Regions from separate parts of the Homo sapiens genome. Here region 2 is linked to region 1. Evidence: fine-mapped expression QTL. Tissue or cell type: whole blood. Region 1 holds a variant in brackets; the other region holds the start of a gene. All regions are shown on one strand. Distances are between the middles of the regions.

Region 1 (8,175 bases):
CTGAGTAGCTGGGATTACAGGTGCGCACCACTACGCCTGGCTAATTTTTGTATTTTTAGTAGAGATGGGGTTTCTCCATGTTGGTCAGGCTGGTCTTGAACTCCCGACCTTGTGATCCACCCACCTCGGCCTCCCAAAGTGCTGGGATTACAGGCGTGAGCCACCGCGCCCGGCCATGATTCTCCTTCTGTGGGTGGAGGAACTGGGCACTGGGAGCGTGAAAACCTTGCCCAGGTGGCAGAGCCAGCTTTGGACGCAGGTCTGACTTCCTACCTCACTCCCCTTGCCTTGACAGACACAGTAATTCAGAGTTGAACTTGGAACAGAGTTTATTTTCCATCACTGTAAAACATTCTCAGTGAGGTTACTGGCATTAAAAAGGTGGGAGAAATGGAAGAAAATGGGGTTGAAGAAAAAAAAAGCCTTTGCTCTTGACAGCTAGGCAGCCACAGCGGAGGCCGCCAGGCTGCGAGGGCAGCGTATGGGGGCAGAGCCCGGTTCTGGCGGCACAGGCCCCGGAGTGGAGGGGGCAGGGGAGGGTCTCTGTAGGTGGGAGAGGGCCTGGGGGCTGGGAGGCAGCCTGGCCTTGTGCCCTACAGGAGGGACCTCCTGGGACTTTATGGAAGCCTGTCTTGCCTTTGACTTGCAATGAAAATGCCCCTCATCATTGGGAGTGGGGTCGGGTGGGGGTCCCCAGTGGCCAGATCACGTGGGGTCCAGAGAGCAGACATCTGTAGCCCTGATCTTGGCGGCCAGTGACCACGGCCAAGCAGGGCCTGTCTTTTGCCTGGTACAAGGCTTGATGAGAAGAGACCCCTGCCCATCCTCAGTGGCCTGGCAGCCAGGGGTGAACCCCAGGGGAAGCTGGGACACTGTCCCAAAGGCCCGGCGCCCTACTGTGCTGCCTGAGCCCGTGGCACCGTGGGGCCCAAGGTGGTGATGATTTCTCTGCTCTTCCCACGGGGCAGACAGCAGGACACATCCTGGAGACAAGGTTGGGGAGACAAACAGGTGCCCAGGTCAGGGCTGATCACAGCAGTTACAAAAGCATCCCGTGAAGACGGGGCTGCAAGACGGTGCTGGCAAAGGAACAGGACCCAGGAAGACCAGGCTTGTCCTGTGGAGGGGCCGGGTCTTGGCAGGGGGCAAGCAGATGTCCCCAGTTTTTGCTGGTGATCAACAAGTGAGGCCGCTGCTCCATTCTACACAGGACAGCATTTCCAGGGGTTTCCAGTATTCTGTCTAGATTCATAAAGGTCAAAGGCCTTGAGAATCTATGTGTGCCTTTCTATCTTAGGTAAAGAAGAGAAAGAGAAAGCAAATTCTCGTTACTCCTCTTTCAAAAAGTTCATTAAAAGCCAGGCTGGCAGCTCACAGTGCTATAATCCCAGCACTGTGGAAGGCCTAGGCAGGAGGATTGAGAGGAGTTCCAGACCAACCTGGGCAACACCGTGAGACCCCATCTCTACAAAAAAAAAAAAAAAAAAAATTAGCTGGACATGGTGGTGTGCACCTGTAGTCCCAGCTGCTGCGTCTCGAAAAGAGAAAAAACCACGTGTATTAGATCTGTGTGGGTAGGCATGTGTGTGTCGTGTGTTAATTTAGGTGCCCAAAATAGCAAGTATGCAGGAAGCCAGAAAATAAGGCTTAGGTCTCTTTCAACCCTAAAATCCTCTAAATACGTTTTACTTGGTTTTTAAAAAGACCTTATTGATGGAAATAATAGATGCCTGTTTAAAAAAATGCAGAACTGGAGAAAGATGAAGAGCCTCAGAGTCCCGCAGAGAGCAGCACCCCGTCCTCCTGCTGTCCCTGCCCATCTCCCTCAGAGGACCAGGCCCCTTTATCCCAAAGCTGTTGTCACAGGTTACATACAGATTTGTATCTGCATCCTTCCTCTAAGTTCATGCACCTGTGACTGAGCTCTAACAGGGTGGGCAACAGTCCAAAGTCTGAGGGTCCCTGCCTCTGGAATGCCCCTGCTAGTGGAAATGCAGGAACAACAAGGGGACACCGGGGCCCAGGGTCCATGGCAAGTCAGCCCGCCCCTGCCCACTCCTGGGATCCCACTACCTGAGGCAGCTATAGTTGCTCCAGAGGAGGCATCAGGGCCTCCCTGGCTGCCCCTGGCTCAGGAACATCCCCCAGGGCTCTGGGCCTGCCTCTTGGGAGTCGAGCCTGGGCGCTCTGCCCCTTGGCACAGAGCTTCATGTGTTGCTTCCTCCCAGTTCGTGATCCAGCTGTGTCTTCAGGGGCCTGAGCCCTCCCACCCGCGGGCCCCTTGCTGGCAGGCAGCTCGGGCTGGGCTGTCCCCTTCTGAAAGGCCCTGAGCTGCTGGAGAAGCTGGCTTTTCCCGGTACAGGTCCTGTGACACAATGAGACCAAATTCACTCAACCCCGTGGGGGCCGCCCCTCCCAGCCCTCCTTACTGAAACAGGAGAAAAGCAGATGAGCCCAGCTCCCATTTCAGAGCAAGAATGCAATTCAGGCAGCCCATCACTGCTGCCACTGCTGGGACCCAGTGGACGTGGGCAGGATGATGAAAGCTGTGCCGTCCCCCTCACCCTGTGCGGTGGGTGCAGCAAGACCTCACCACAGGCGGTAAATGTGCCAGGTGGAGGGCTTGCTGCAGAAAGCAGAGGTGGGACATCTGCAGGTGGCGAGAGGCCCCTGGGTGGTTACCGTAGCCCCAGGGAGGAAGGAGATGCCCCCTCTGCGTCTCCCAGAGCTGCCATCTCTTCCTCCTCCTCCTCCTCACTGTCAGAGGAGCTGTGGCTGGAGCTGCAGGGAGAGAAATGGGTTTCTGGATGTGCCCACTCCACCTGGTGTTCCAACTCTTGTTGGGGCTTGAAGCACTCGGGCTTTGCTGGTGACCCAATGCAAGAGGTCAGCAGCCACACTGGAGGCCGGTGGACGTCCTGCCAGGAGGTGAGGACAGGTGTGGGTGATGCCCTCCAGCCTAGACGTGTTGGGCTCTATTGCATAGAGCCCAGCCCGAGGAGGTGTGCCTCATGCCCCTCTTCCCTCCCTGCAGGGACCCAGGGGGACTGTAGGCCAGCACTTTTCAATTGAGAATTGATCCAAGCCTTTTGAAGTCCCTGTTCCTCCCCATCAGGATCCACCAGAGGCTCTGTGCGGTCAACAGGCAACTCTGCAAAGTAGAGGCTGGTATGGGGTAGTCACTGCCCTCCGGACCTTTCTGGGGACAGGTGGTCTGGTAGCTCCATCTGCCGCAGGTCAATAAAGATGGTGGGGGACTCTGCGTTAAGCCTCATGCCCTGGGCCAGCTGCGGGCCTGGCCCAGCCTGG[G/A]AGCCCTGCTTCCTTGAGGCACATCTGAAATGAGAAAAGCAGGTGTTGTGGAGTCAGTTCTCTGTGATAACTCTGTGACCTGCGCTGGGTTTGTCCAGTCACAGTGCTCGTGGCTGCCACCCAGTGAGTGCCCACTCTCTACAGACGGGCACATTAAACACATTTGCTCTTTTACTCTTCAGAACAGCATGCGAGATTTAGGCCACCACTGGCCAACAGAACGTCCCTCATGATGGACATGCTCTCTATCTGTGGTAAGTGTAGCCACTTGGCACAAGTGGCTAAGTTTACATTTAAGCCAGTTTAAATCCAATGCATAAAACATTCAGTTCCTCAGTCACATTCACCACGTTAGGTGTTTAGTAGCCACACACGGCTAATGGCTGCCATGGTTAACACTGCAGTTCTCTCCATTTCTTTTTCTTTTTCTTTTTTTTTTTTTTTTTGAGACAGAGTCTTGCTCTGTCGCCCAGGCTGGACTGCAGTGGCATGATCTTGGTCACTGCAACCTCCGCCTCCTGGGTTCAAGAGATTTCTCCTGCCTCAGCCTCCCAAGTAGCTGGGATTACAGGCATGCACCAACATGCCTGGAAAATTTTTTTGTGTTTTTAGTAGAGATGGGGTTTCACCATGTTGGCCAGGCTGGTCTCGAACTCCTGACATCAGGTGATCTGCCTGCCTCGGCCTTCCAAAGTGCCGGGATTATAGGCATGAGCCACCGCGCCCAGCCAGGTGTAGCCACTTCTGTTAGGTACTTTTGGTTTCCAGACACAGAAACCCACTGCTGGTCAGGTGAAAAGGGATTCACTGGTTCTCAGATTCCTCAAGTGCGGAGCAACCAAAGTGTGGGGAGGGCAGGCATATAGAGGGGCCTTACGGGACCCTGGGGCCCTGCCTCCACCTCTGCCTCTCCCAGCTTCACTGCAGCTTGCCTTTCTCCCTGTGGCAGGACAGGTGGCTGTTGCCCTTCCACCCCTACACAGAGACACAGAGATTGAAAAATCCCGCAGCTGGGGTCACATGCCCAGAGCTGGACCAATCAGCTGTGGCCAGAGGGGCAGGGTCACATGATAACCTTCCTACTCTCAGGGAGGCCTCATGGCCTCCCATTGAAAGGAGGGTTCCCGTTGGGTTTGGGGAAAGAGCAGGTACTTGAGGGCTTGAGTCCCAGCCCTGCCATTTATGGCCAGAGAGAGTCAACCTCTCTGAGCCTTGGTTTCCCCATCTCTAAAATGGGGATGACTGGAGCGACTGCCTGATCAGATGCTTGAGAGTGACTGAGAAAATGCACATGGAGTGCCCCGCCCTTGGTAGGCCCAGTCAGTGCTACAAAACCATGGGGCCATTCTAAAGGACCACAGGAGCCGGGCCTGGCTACAAGTCCCACCTGCTTCCTGAATCTGCCTCTTTGGTGTCCTGGGGAGTGTCGGCAGGCACCTTCCGGGCACAAGCAGAGGCCTTGGACTGCGTGGTGCACAGGAGGGCCAGCTGTTCCATGAGCCTGTTGTGGGCGCTCGGCACCATGCGGTCTGAGGATGGCCAAAGGAGAGGCTGATTAGTGGGGACTTGGCCCACTTGTGACTTACAGCAGCTGGAGCCTCAGGACCCCTGGGGTCTCCACATGTGAATGGACCTCAGGCTCCTCCACTGCCCCCGCCCAGCCCTCTCCCTACTCAGCCCTCTGAGGACTCCACCTCTAGCTCAGCAGGGCTGAGGGGGGCAGAATCTTTATGAGCAGGGCCTGTGGCACAAGGGCTTGGTGAAGTAGGAGTGACGTATTTTTAAGTTTATCCCACTTCCTCACACCCCGGTCCCACTTGTCACAGGTGATCATAATGAACAGTTCTGTGTGTTGACTTAAAAAAAAAATAGGGTCATCCTCTATAGGTTTTTTTTCAACTTCACTTTTTTCACTTTGTATATTACATGCTTCCACGTTAACCTACGGAGATCCCCTCATCGAGCCGCAGTGTATTCTGTGCTAAAACGATCTAGCTGGACTCCTCCTGAATATGGGTTGTTTCCAGCTTTTCAGATTTTTAAACAACACTGCAGCAAACAGCTCTGAACACACATCTTTACCTACTAGAGTCAGAGTGTAAGACAGATTTTCTAATTGCAATAGCTTGATTAAAGGGTTATGTGCCTTTAAAACAGAGAATACATTCGGCCAAGCGCGGTGGCTCACGCCTGTAATCCCAGCACTTTGGGAGGCTGAGGCAGGCGGATCCTGAGGTCAGGAGTTCGAGACCAGCCTGGCTAACATGGTGAAATCCCGTTTCTACTAAAAATACAAAAAAAATTAGCCAGGCGTGGTGGCACGTGCCTGTAATCCCAGCAACTCAGGAGGCTGAGGCAGGAGAATCGCTTGAACCCGGGAGGTGGAGGTTGCAGTGAACCGAGATCGTGCCATTGCACTCCAGTTTGGGCAACAAGAGTGAAACTCTGTCTCAAAAAAAAAAAAAAAAAAAAAAAAGAATACATTCTGCCCTACTCCCCTCCACAAAGGGAGTGCCAGTTACACACACACATACACATGCACACACATGTCCTCCAGAATGGTTGGCTCTCTACCTCCTGCTTTATGGGATTTGAATTACAAACCAACAAAATGTATTTAACATAACACGGGCTGTCAGTCACAGGGGAGTCTTTGCTTTGGGACCAGAGGCGGAAGCGCCGCACCTGCCCTGGCTCCTCTGCCTCAGACCTGCCTCCCCTCGCCTTTGTGGCCCGAGTGGATAGGGAGGGGTTGGAGAACTTTCATTTTATTTGCAGGACTTCCCAGAGCAAAGCCATGAGTGTAGTGACAGTGGTGACATCCTTTGCCTCCCTTTTTAAATGGGGAGGCCAGGGGAAGCGGGAGCGTGCTTAGGAGCTGACTGCGCACAGAAGGTGGGGCTTCCTTCCCCCAGGAAGGAGGAGGAGGGAGAAGGAAGGCAGGCTGGCCCAGGGAGGTGGGGAAGAGGAGGTATGGGTCATGGGGTGGGGTGCGGAGGCCTCTCCTTTGTCCCTAGGACCTGGCCCACGCCTGGCACGTAGCAGGCGGTCACATATATGTTGAATGAATGAAGTCTTTTGGGGACTGGCAGCATGAGTGTTTAGGGCGGGGCCAGCAGGGAAGACTTGTGTGGGCTGCAGGACTGTCTGTGACCAGCCTGCAGCCCTCTGTGTCTGAGGGGCCCAGGAAGGTGCTGCTTGTGGGGATTCACGTGGGCTCCAGTGTTCAAGGTCAGACCTTGAACTTGGCGGTGGTCAGCTGCCCACCACACAGTTCCAGGTGCACGATTTCCCTGGTTGTCTTCTTGTCCCGCCAGACTCTGAAGGATGTCATCCAAATCCCACGCTTCAAGTTGCTGAAATCATTAAAACCAGTGATTATGAGGATGCTGAGGGGTCCCAGAGGCACAAGTACCTGCTTCACAGCTGCTGTGACCCATGGAGATGGTCACAGGATGTTGGGGGTAGAAATCAGGAATTCAGTGCATGACAGAGTTTGCAAATAGGCTGACCCCGCCTTTCCATTACAGATTGAACGCCTCCGTTAAGGTGGGCCTGCACTTTGCCACCTCCTTCCTATGCTTTCTTGGGGATCAGTACTTCACTTTTGTTTTTGGCACAAAGACGTTGTCTGACCCGAAGGAAACCCTGTATTGTTGTTTCATTTTGTTTTGTTTTTGAGACCGAGTCTCACTCTGTCGCTCAGGCTGGAGTGTAGTGGTGCGAGCTCAGCTCACTGCAACCTCCACCTCCCAGGTTCAAGTGATTCTCCTGCCTCAGCCTCCCAAGTAGCTGGAATTACAGGCATGCGCCACCACACCCTTCATTTTTTTTTTTTTTTTTTTTGTATTTTTAGTAGAGATGGGGTTTCACCATGTTGGCCAGGCTGGTCTCGAACAAACACCTGACCTCAGGTGATCCACCTGCCTCCACCTCCGCCTTCACCTCCCAAAGTGCTGAGACTACAGGTGTGAGCCACCACGCCCAGCCTAATTTTTGTGTTTTTAGTAGAGATGGGGTTTCACCATGTTGGCGAGGCTGGTCTTGAATGCCTGACCTCAAGCAATCCATCTGCCTGGGTCTCCCAAAATGTTGTGATTACAGGCATAAGCCACCGAGCCCAGCCAAACCCTGTGTTGTTTTCAGAAACACTATTTAGGTTCATACAGGTTCACAATGTTTGGAGGTTAAAAAATTTTGTTCTTTTAAGAATCAAGCTGTTCCAGGCAGGAGCTAAAACTGGAAGGCTTGGCAGTGAGTGCTTAGGGGCAGAGTGAGTCTGAGGAGGAGGGAGGAAATTAATCAAGAATTCATGTTTATCATATGACCTTTCAACTCTTTGCAGCCCTCTAAGTGGAGAAAAATAAGTTTTTAGGTGAGCAGAAAGAACGGTTGATTTAAACAGTAGTAAAGATGACTTCTGTGTATACCTGGTGCCAGTTTTCTCTAACCTGTTAAGAAAAATTATCCAAAATGTGTAAAACCGAGACGGTGTGATGGTTACTTTTCTGTCCAGTAGACAAGATAACTCCTCTAGGACATGAATGTGACAAGCGTATCTCTGCATTCCTCTCTTTTTCCCCAGTGTTTTACAAAATCCCAATTTCTTTTTTTTTGAGATGGAGTCTCGCTCTGTCACCCAAACTGGAGTGCAGGGGCGTGATCCCCATCTCCTGGGTTCAAGCGATTCTCCTGCCTCAGCCTCCCAAATAGTGGGACTACAGGCGCGCACCACCACACTTGGCTAATTTTTGTATTGTTAATAGAGTCACGGTTTCACCATGTTGGCCAGGCTGCTCTCGAACTCCTGACCTCAGATTTTCCTCCTGCCTTGGCTTCCCAAAGTGCTGGGATTACAAGCGTGAG
Region 2 (8,175 bases), 21 kb before region 1:
GGCTCACTGCAACCTCCGCCTCCCTGGTTCAAGCTGTTCTTCTACCTCAGCCTCCCTAGTAGCTGGGATTACAGGTGTGTGCCACTATGCCTGGCTAATTTTTTGTATTTTTAATAGAGACGGGGTTTTGCCATGTTGGCCAGGCTGGTCTTGAACTCCTGACCTCAAGTGATCTGCCTGCTTCGGCCTCCCAAAGTGCTGTGATTACAGGCGTGAGCCACCGCACCTGGCCTATTTAAGATTATTTATTAAAACATTTGGTAGGTTTTAATACTTCATGAATACAAATTCAAAATAATGGCTTTTGTTGTTGTTTTTAAAAAGCACATTAATGGCCAGGCGCGGTGGCTCACACCTGATAATTCCAGCACTTTGGGAGGCCAAGGAGGGTGGATCACCTGAGATCAGGAGTTCAAGACCAGCCTGGCCAACATGGTGAAGACCCGTCTCTACTGAAAATACGAAAATTAGCTGGGTGTGGTGGTGCATGCCTGTAATCCCAGGTACTTGGGAGGCTGAGGCAGGAGAATCGCTTGAACTCAGGAGGCGGAGGTCTCAGTGAGCCCAGATTGCGCCACTGCACTCCAGCCTGGGCAACAGTGAGAGTCTGTCTCAAAAAAAAATAAAATAAGTAAAAATAAATAAAAAAATATAAATAAATATAAAAATATAAATATATAAATTAAAAATAAATAAAAAGCACATTAAAACTTGCAGTTTTTGCCCCCTGAACCTTCCCCCCATCACATCCCTCTTCAACGTTTGCCCCATCACCATCCTGAATTTGGTGTTCATCCAAGTCCCAAACATTTCTTTGAACCGCATACATGTCTCTAAATCATATGTAGAATTGTTTTGCATTTTCAAAATTTATGAAAATTGTATCATATTGCCACTTGCCTTTTTTTGTTTGGCATAGCCTCCGTGAGATTTATCCATCATTCTCCTGTTGACTAACATTTAGACTGTTTTCGGTTTTGCCATTACAAACAACACTGCCCTGAACACAGAGGTAGTCTTTATTACTAACAGAATTAGGACATATTAAGCCTATATGTGTCTGACGTTCTGTTCTGTCTCTTTACCATAATGGTGCCTACTGCAGGTGATGTTACCATCCCCATTGTACAAAGGAGTTATCCTTGTCTCCCTCCTCCACCCCAAGCTAATCAACCACCAAGCACTGTTGAATGTGCTCCAGGAATCTTGGCCAGATCCTTGTCAGTGACTACCACCATCACTAGTTACCCCAACTCTGGACCACTCCAGGAGCTTCCAGCTAGTCTCACTGCTCCTCTCCAGTCTTTCTGAGATCTGTACTCCACAAAGCTTCTTATCTGATCACGATGCTATCCTACTTAAAACCCCAAACTCTATTGACTCCAAGGATAAAATCCTTAATCCTCACCAGAGTCTCCAAGTATGGTCAGGCCTTGCCCATCCCTCCAGCCACATCTCCCAATCTCTGGTCTCCATTCTGTTCCTCAAACGCACCGTGTTCTCTCCGGCCCCAGGACCTTTGCACTTTTCACTCCTGCTGTCTGGAATCCTCCCCACCGGTTCCCCAGGTTAACCCTAGGCTGCTCAACTGTCACTTCCACCCTGAAGGTATCAGGTTCCCTCTTTTACGCCGCTTGCTAACATTTGCCAAAGAAGTGATTAAACAATTCTTCGTGCAATTTTGTCCACTGTATGCCTCTCATGGTAATTTTGTCCACTGTATGCCTCTCATGGCAAGCTCCATGAAAGCAGGCACCTGCCACCACTCCATCACCCGAGCGCCTAGTTAAGGGGGCAGTTGGGAGGACTCAACGTGCAGCGTTTATGCATTTATTATGCCTGGATGAATGGTCTTGAATGAGTTACAACCTTGAGGGTTAATGTCCCCCATTAACAGATATGGAAACTGAGGTTCAGGGCGCGCAAGGGAACCGCCCGCAGTCTCGACGACAAGGACGCTGCCACCGGGAGACTGCAGCCCCTTCCTCCGAGCCCCTGGCAGTGCCGCCACTTGAGGAGACCCTCCAGGCCGCCAACCCACCCCCTCTAGAGCGCCCAGGAATCTGCCTCCGGGGAGGGCGCGGGGCGCTCTGGGAAATGTAGTCCTGCCAGCTTCCTGAATCCGGCGTCCCCAAATTTGTTTCCGGCGGGCTGAGTCCTAGCCGATGCTTTGGGAAAGACGCGCGAGATTCCGGGGGTAGATCCGGGATGCGAGGCGGGGCGCGCATGCGGGGCGGAGCTTGTGCGGGGCGGGGCGTACGTTGAGTGTACGCCTGCTGTGTATGCTGCGTTGCTGCTCACCCGAACTCGGTGCTGGGACTCTTTCCTGGGCACCCCAGGCAGAGGGAAACTCCGGATCATGTTCAACCAAAGAGGAAAAGCAGCGAGAATCCAGCATAGGAGACGGGCCTTAGGATGCCCAAGTTAGGATTAGGGGCAAACTACGTTAACCTGGTAGTTAGGAGCTGAAGTTCTGGAATCAAAGATTTGGGTTCCAATCCCATTTCTGTACTTCCTGTTTGACCTTCTCTGGGGGGTTCAATACTTAAAACTCTCAGAGCTTCAGGGTTTTGTTTTGTTTTGTTGAACCGGTAGGTCTAGTTATAGTACCTCTATTACTAAATGAGGAAGAAACGAAGTACAAATGTGTTTTGCTTGCTTGATGCTCAAGAATTGATGCGACCGGGAGCGGTGGCTTACTCCTGTAATCTCAGCACTTTGGGAGGCTGACGTGGGTGGATTGCTTGAGGCCGTTGGAGACCAGCCTGGGCAACATGGGGAAACCCCATCTCTACTAAAAATACAAAAATTAGCCGGACCTGGTGGTTCGTGCCTGTAATCCCAACTATTCGGGAGGTTAGGTAGGAGAATTGCTTAAAACCGGGCGGCGGAGGTTGCTGTGAGCCAAGGTCGAGCCACTGCACTCTAGCCTGGGCGACAGAGTGAGACCCTGTCTCTAAATAAATAAATACATACATACAAGAATTGATACCTGGCTGGGCACACCTGTAATCCTGACACTTTGGGAAGCTGAGGCGGGAAGATTGCTTGGGCCCAGGAGTTTGAGACCAGCCTAGGCACCATGGTGGGACTTCATCTCTAACAACAACAACAAAGATTGATGCCCATTATTATGTTGTCAGAAAGAAGCAGGCAGGACAAGGGATATTTGGGGTTGGACGTTGTTGGGGGCCCTCTTGGGGGAGGGTGGGCGCAAGCACTTGGCATCTCTTCCAGTTTTATCTTGAACAACTTCTGCCTTTATTTATTTTATTTATTTATTATTTATTTATTTATTTTTTGAGATGGAGTTTCGCTCTTGTTGCCCAGGCTGGAGGACAATGGCAGGATGTCGGCTCACTGCAACCTGCGCCTTAGCCTCCTGAGTAGCTAGGATTACAGGCATGAACCACCACGCCCAGGTTTCTCCACGTTAGTCAGGCTGGTCTCGAACTCCCGACCTCAGGTGATCCGCCCGCGTCGGCCTCCCAAAGTGCTAGGATTACAGGTGTGAGCCACCGTGCCCGGACGACTTTGCTGGCTTTAAAGATGGAGGAGGCGGCCAGAGGAGAGCGGAGCGGGTGTGGAACAGTGACTGGGAAAGTAGCCCAGAGGCTGCAGAGTCGCCGCACGCTCGCGCGGTCACCGAGGTGCTGGACTACGTTACCCACAATGCGTGCCTTTGAGGACCACATTAACCACAGTGCACGTCGCGGACCCGCCCACTCGGCCGTGTTGCCACGCCCCCAACGGCCGGCTTAGCCAATGGTGCCACGGCTACGTTACCCACAATGCCGCCTGCGGGCCCACCCGCACGGCCTGGTTTGCACCCCTGGTTTAGGGTCTTCGGCCCCGGCTCTGGCGTCCCTGGCTGCCAAGCCTGAGGCCCGCAGTCCTACTCCCGCCGAGACCCGCCGCTCCGGTCCTGCCCCGAACTGCCCACGGCCGGCAGCGCTTCCAGTGAGTGCGGGGGGCGCGGGGACGCGGGTCCCGGCCGAAGCTTCGATTTCGCGGCCCGCGCCAGCACCCGGGTCTGTGCCGCGGCCTCGGGTACCGCTCACCCTCCACCTGAGGGATGAGACGGGAAAGCAGCCCGGCCTGGGGGTCCCAGCTCTCCCAGGACCCTGGAATTGGGGGGCTGTCGTGACCACCCACGCGGGGGTGCCTGACGGGGCCGCGTAGGGGCTTCAGGGTTCGCCAGACCTGGACACCGGGGATCAAGTTGAGGCAGAGTCTGCAGAAAGGCCCTACTTTTCATCAGATTTCCAAAGGAACCCCTTCCATATAGGACCCACTCTAATCATGGAAAATAACGATTCTCGAGCTCTGACCGCAAACATCCCTTTTAGATTGTTTTTGTTTGAGTCTCTCTCTGTCGCCCAGGCTGGAGTGCAGTGGCGCTATCTCAGTTCACTGCAACCTCCATCTCCCGGGTTCAAGCGATTCTCCTGTCTCAGCCTCCCGAGTTGCTGGGATTACAGATGTGCTACCACCATGTCGGGCTAATTTTTGTATTTTTTGTAGAGACAGGGTTCCACCACGTTGACCAGGTGGTCAACTCCTGAACTCACGTGATCTGCCCTCCTCTGCCTCCCAAAGTGCGGGGATTACAGGCGTCAGCTACTGCCCCCAGCCATCCCTTTTAGTTCTGTCAGCAACCTGTGTGTGTAGGTCCTGTTATCATCTCTGTTTGCCCAGTGAGGAAGCAAAGCCCAGAGCCCTTCAGTAAATTACCCGGGAATTAACAGGGGGTTAATAACAAAGATGACATTCATCCACTTCCTTTTCCTTTTCCATGGTGGGGTGAGCTGGCCTTGGAACCAGGGCAGGGGCTTCCCAGGCCAAAGGGCTTATCCAGCCCCAGGGCTGCCCTTCAGATGGTTTTATCGTCTCTCCACAGGGCCCTGAAAAAAACTCTCTTCCTGTGTCTGGCCAGAGGTATAGAGAGAGACAGGTTCAACTCTAAGGCCTGAAAAGGAACAAGGCCCACCGGAAGCAATGGCCACTGTCCCTGGCCTCCAGCCCCTGCCAACCTTGGAGCAGGACCTGGAACAGGAAGAGATCCTGATTGTGAAGGTGGAGGAGGACTTCTGCTTGGAAGAGGAGCCCTCCGTGGAGACGGAGGACCCCAGCCCTGAGACTTTCCGCCAGCTCTTCCGGCTCTTCTGCTACCAGGAGGTGGCTGGGCCCCGGGAGGCCCTGAGCCGCCTCTGGGAGCTGTGCTGCCGCTGGCTGCGGCCGGAGCTGCGCACCAAGGAGCAGATCCTGGAGCTGCTGGTGCTGGAGCAGTTCCTGACTGTGCTGCCGGGGGAGATCCAGGCTCGGGTACGCGAGCAGCAGCCGGAGAGCGGTGAGGAGGCCGTGGTCCTTGTGGAAGGGCTGCAGCGGAAGCCCAGGAAACACAGGCAGCGGGTGAGTGGGGGCATTTTGACCCTCAGGTGAGGAAATGGGGCCCTGCTGCTGGGGTCTGCAGCTGCAGATTCCTTGGTCATTGGGTGACCAAGTGTGGCTGCCTGGCCCCTGAGCCCTTTTGAGGAAAGCAACTGCAAAAGATTTCTCAGCCTTGGCTAATGGGTGTCCACCCTTTGATTAACCTCATCCTACCCCAATAGCCCTTTATTAGCTAGTGCAGATGGTTTGTGAACACTGTCCTAGGGTAGGCCAAACATGTTTTTTTTTTTGAGACATAGTCTCGCTCTGTTGCCCAGGCTATGGTGGTGTGATCACCGCTCATTGCAGCCTCTACCTCCAGGCTTCAAGCAATCCTCCCACCTCAGCCTATTGAGTAGCTGGGACTACAGGCATGCACCACTACACCTGCTAATTTTGTGTATTTTTTGTAGAGACAGGGTTTCGTTATGTTGCCCAGACTGGTCTTGAACTCCTGGCCTCAAGTGATCCTCCCATCTTGGCCTCCCGAAGTGCTGGGATTACAGGCATGAGCCACTACGCCAGCCCCAAACATAGGTTTTGGTGGGAGAGAGGTCCGGCACCTTCCAAGGCAGGGAGTTGAAACTACCCCCAAAGTGGGAGAACACTGGGAAGAAAGACCAGGGGCATGGGGGGCACTTTGGTTAGAGCCCCCAGAGGTTCTAGAGCTGTGCCATGCAAAACAGTAGCTGCCAGCCACATGTAGCTTTTTAAATTATAGCTATGTACATTTATTTTACTTTTTTTTTTTTTTTCTTTTTTTTTGAGATGGAGTCTCGCCCTGTCGCCCAGGCTGGAGAGCAGTGGCGCAATCTCGGCTCACTGCAAGCTCCGCCTCCCGGATTCACGCCATTCTCCTGCCTCAGCCTCCTCAGCAGCTGGGACTACAGGCGCCCACCACCACGCCCGGCTAATTTTTTTGTATTTTTAGTAGAGACAGGGTTTCACCGTGTTAGCCAGGGTGGTCTGGATCTCCTGACCTCGTGATTCACCTGCCTTGGCCTCCCAAAGTGCTGGGATTACAGGCGTGAGCCACCGCACCTAGCCCATTTATTTTACTTTTATTTTTGTGAGACAGAGTCTCTCTCTGTCGCCCAGGCTGGAGTGATTCTCGTGCCTCAGCCTCCCAAGTAGCTGGCATTACAGGGATCTGCCACCACGCCAGGCTGATTTTTGTATTTTTAGTAGAGACAGGGTTTTGCAATGTTGGCTAGGCTGGTCTCAAACTCCTGGCCTCAAGTGATCTGCCTGCCTTGGCCTCCCAAAGTGCTGGGATTACAGGCATGAGCCACTGTGCCCGGCCACTGTGTAGAATGTTAAATTAGTTCCTCAGTCACACTGACCACCTCTCAAGGGCTCAGTCGTCACACATGGCCAGTGGCTACTGTACTGGATGGCACAGACAGGACCCTTCTGACACACCGAAATCTCTATAGACAGTGCCTCTCCACCTCCTTCCAGCCCCATTTGAAGGAGTAGAGGAAGCCTCTTACTCATTCCTGCTGCTTCAGTTTCAGTTGTGGAACTCCTTGAGATTAGAAAGAAGTCCTGCCACCTGCTGTTTCAGTTCATTTTTCAGGGCCTTGCGTGGATGGGGCACATGGGCAGTGCTGACCAGCTGCCTTTCTTCCTGTGGCAGTGCTGCTGGCTGCACACTGCTGGCCTTTTGCAGCCAACAGAGGAGGCACATCCCCTAATGCTTGACCACGGCGTGAGCTGACCGCAGTCAGAAAATCCTGCCATCGGGGTGGCCAAGAAATCGGGGTTTCTTCCCAGCCGGCCAGCCTCTTTCCTGGCCACCACAGCTTCAGTGTTTGGGGTTCCCGGCATGGCTTCCTTCTGTCACTGCACCGACACCTCTGCACACATGCCTCATGGCCATCACTGAGCTGAGAGGGGCAGGCTGTGCTCCCCAAGGGGACTACGCTCCCTTAGAGGTGTGGAATGTTGAATAAGAGGAAGCCTGAGATGGGTCCCTGACGCTGGGTTTGTAGTTGCCTAGGGATGTCTCTTGTCCAAGTGCTATTGCAGAGCTCAATTCTAAGACCCAATTTCATTCAACTCACCTTTCCTGGAATTAGGAAATAGATCATCTCAGAGCACCTGTTGATAATTTCTTTTTTTTTTCTTTTTTTTTTTTTCTTCCCTGAGATGGAGTCTCGCTCTTTTGCCCAGGCTGGAGTGCAGTGGCACGATCTCGGCTCACTGCAACCTGTACTTCCCGAGTTCAAGCGATTCTCCTGCCTCAGCCTCCCAAGTACCTGGGATTACAAGCGTGCTGCCACCATGCCTGGCTAATTTTTGTATTTTTAGTAGAGATGGGGTTTCACCATGTTGGTTAGGCTGGTCTCGAACTCCTGGCCTCAGGTGATCCACCCACCTCGGCCTCCCAAAGTGCTGGAATTACAGGTGTGAGCCATTGCAGCTGGCCAGATAATTTCAAAAAATCTAGCAAATGCAGTTCTGTGAACTTCTGAAATTAGTCCAGCGCTGACTCAGGGCTCTTCTGGCCCAGGGTCTATCCCAGGGTCTATCAGGAGGACCAAGGAATAGAGGGTAAGAATGTGATGGGGAAACGATTGTGGTGACAGGGAGAGACCATGGAGTAGAGCAGGCTGGGAGCTGGCTGCAGGGAACACTGCCACACGGCTGGGCAGAGGGAGGGAGGCTGCAGACAGCCCGGGGGTGGGCAGCCGGCTGGGGTGCCTGAGATGAGGGGTGTGGGGCCCTGCGGGGATTTTTCCT

The links. PIP is the estimated chance that this variant, and not a neighbour inherited with it, causes the effect.
Region 2: it holds the start of ZNF500, and the variant in region 1 is fine-mapped to the expression of ZNF500 in whole blood (TOPMed, PIP above 0.99). The same link has a PIP of 0.9 or more in spleen and thyroid.

What each region holds. Positions count from the first base shown.
Region 1 is chr16:4,741,533-4,749,707 of GRCh38, reverse strand. It overlaps DNAAF8 (dynein axonemal assembly factor 8), which reads right to left. Exons shown (of 10, transcript NM_139170.3): 5 at 6,548-6,665; 6 at 4,697-4,838; 7 at 3,196-3,333; 8 at 2,683-2,781; 9 at 2,074-2,365; 10 at 312-983. The coding sequence ends at 2,083. It overlaps ZNF500 (zinc finger protein 500), which reads left to right. Exons shown (of 6, transcript NM_021646.4): 6 at 1-1,469. Among named protein-coding and RNA genes, the nearest start is that of DNAAF8, 11 kb to the right of the region's middle. The variant G/A (reference allele first, on the strand shown) is at 3,310.
Region 2 is chr16:4,762,802-4,770,976 of GRCh38, reverse strand. ZNF500 (zinc finger protein 500) reads left to right here and starts at 3,815. Exons shown (of 6, transcript NM_021646.4): 1 at 3,815-3,960; 2 at 4,901-5,412. The coding sequence starts at 4,999. RefSeq lists an enhancer at 2,497-2,576 and a silencer at 3,769-4,068.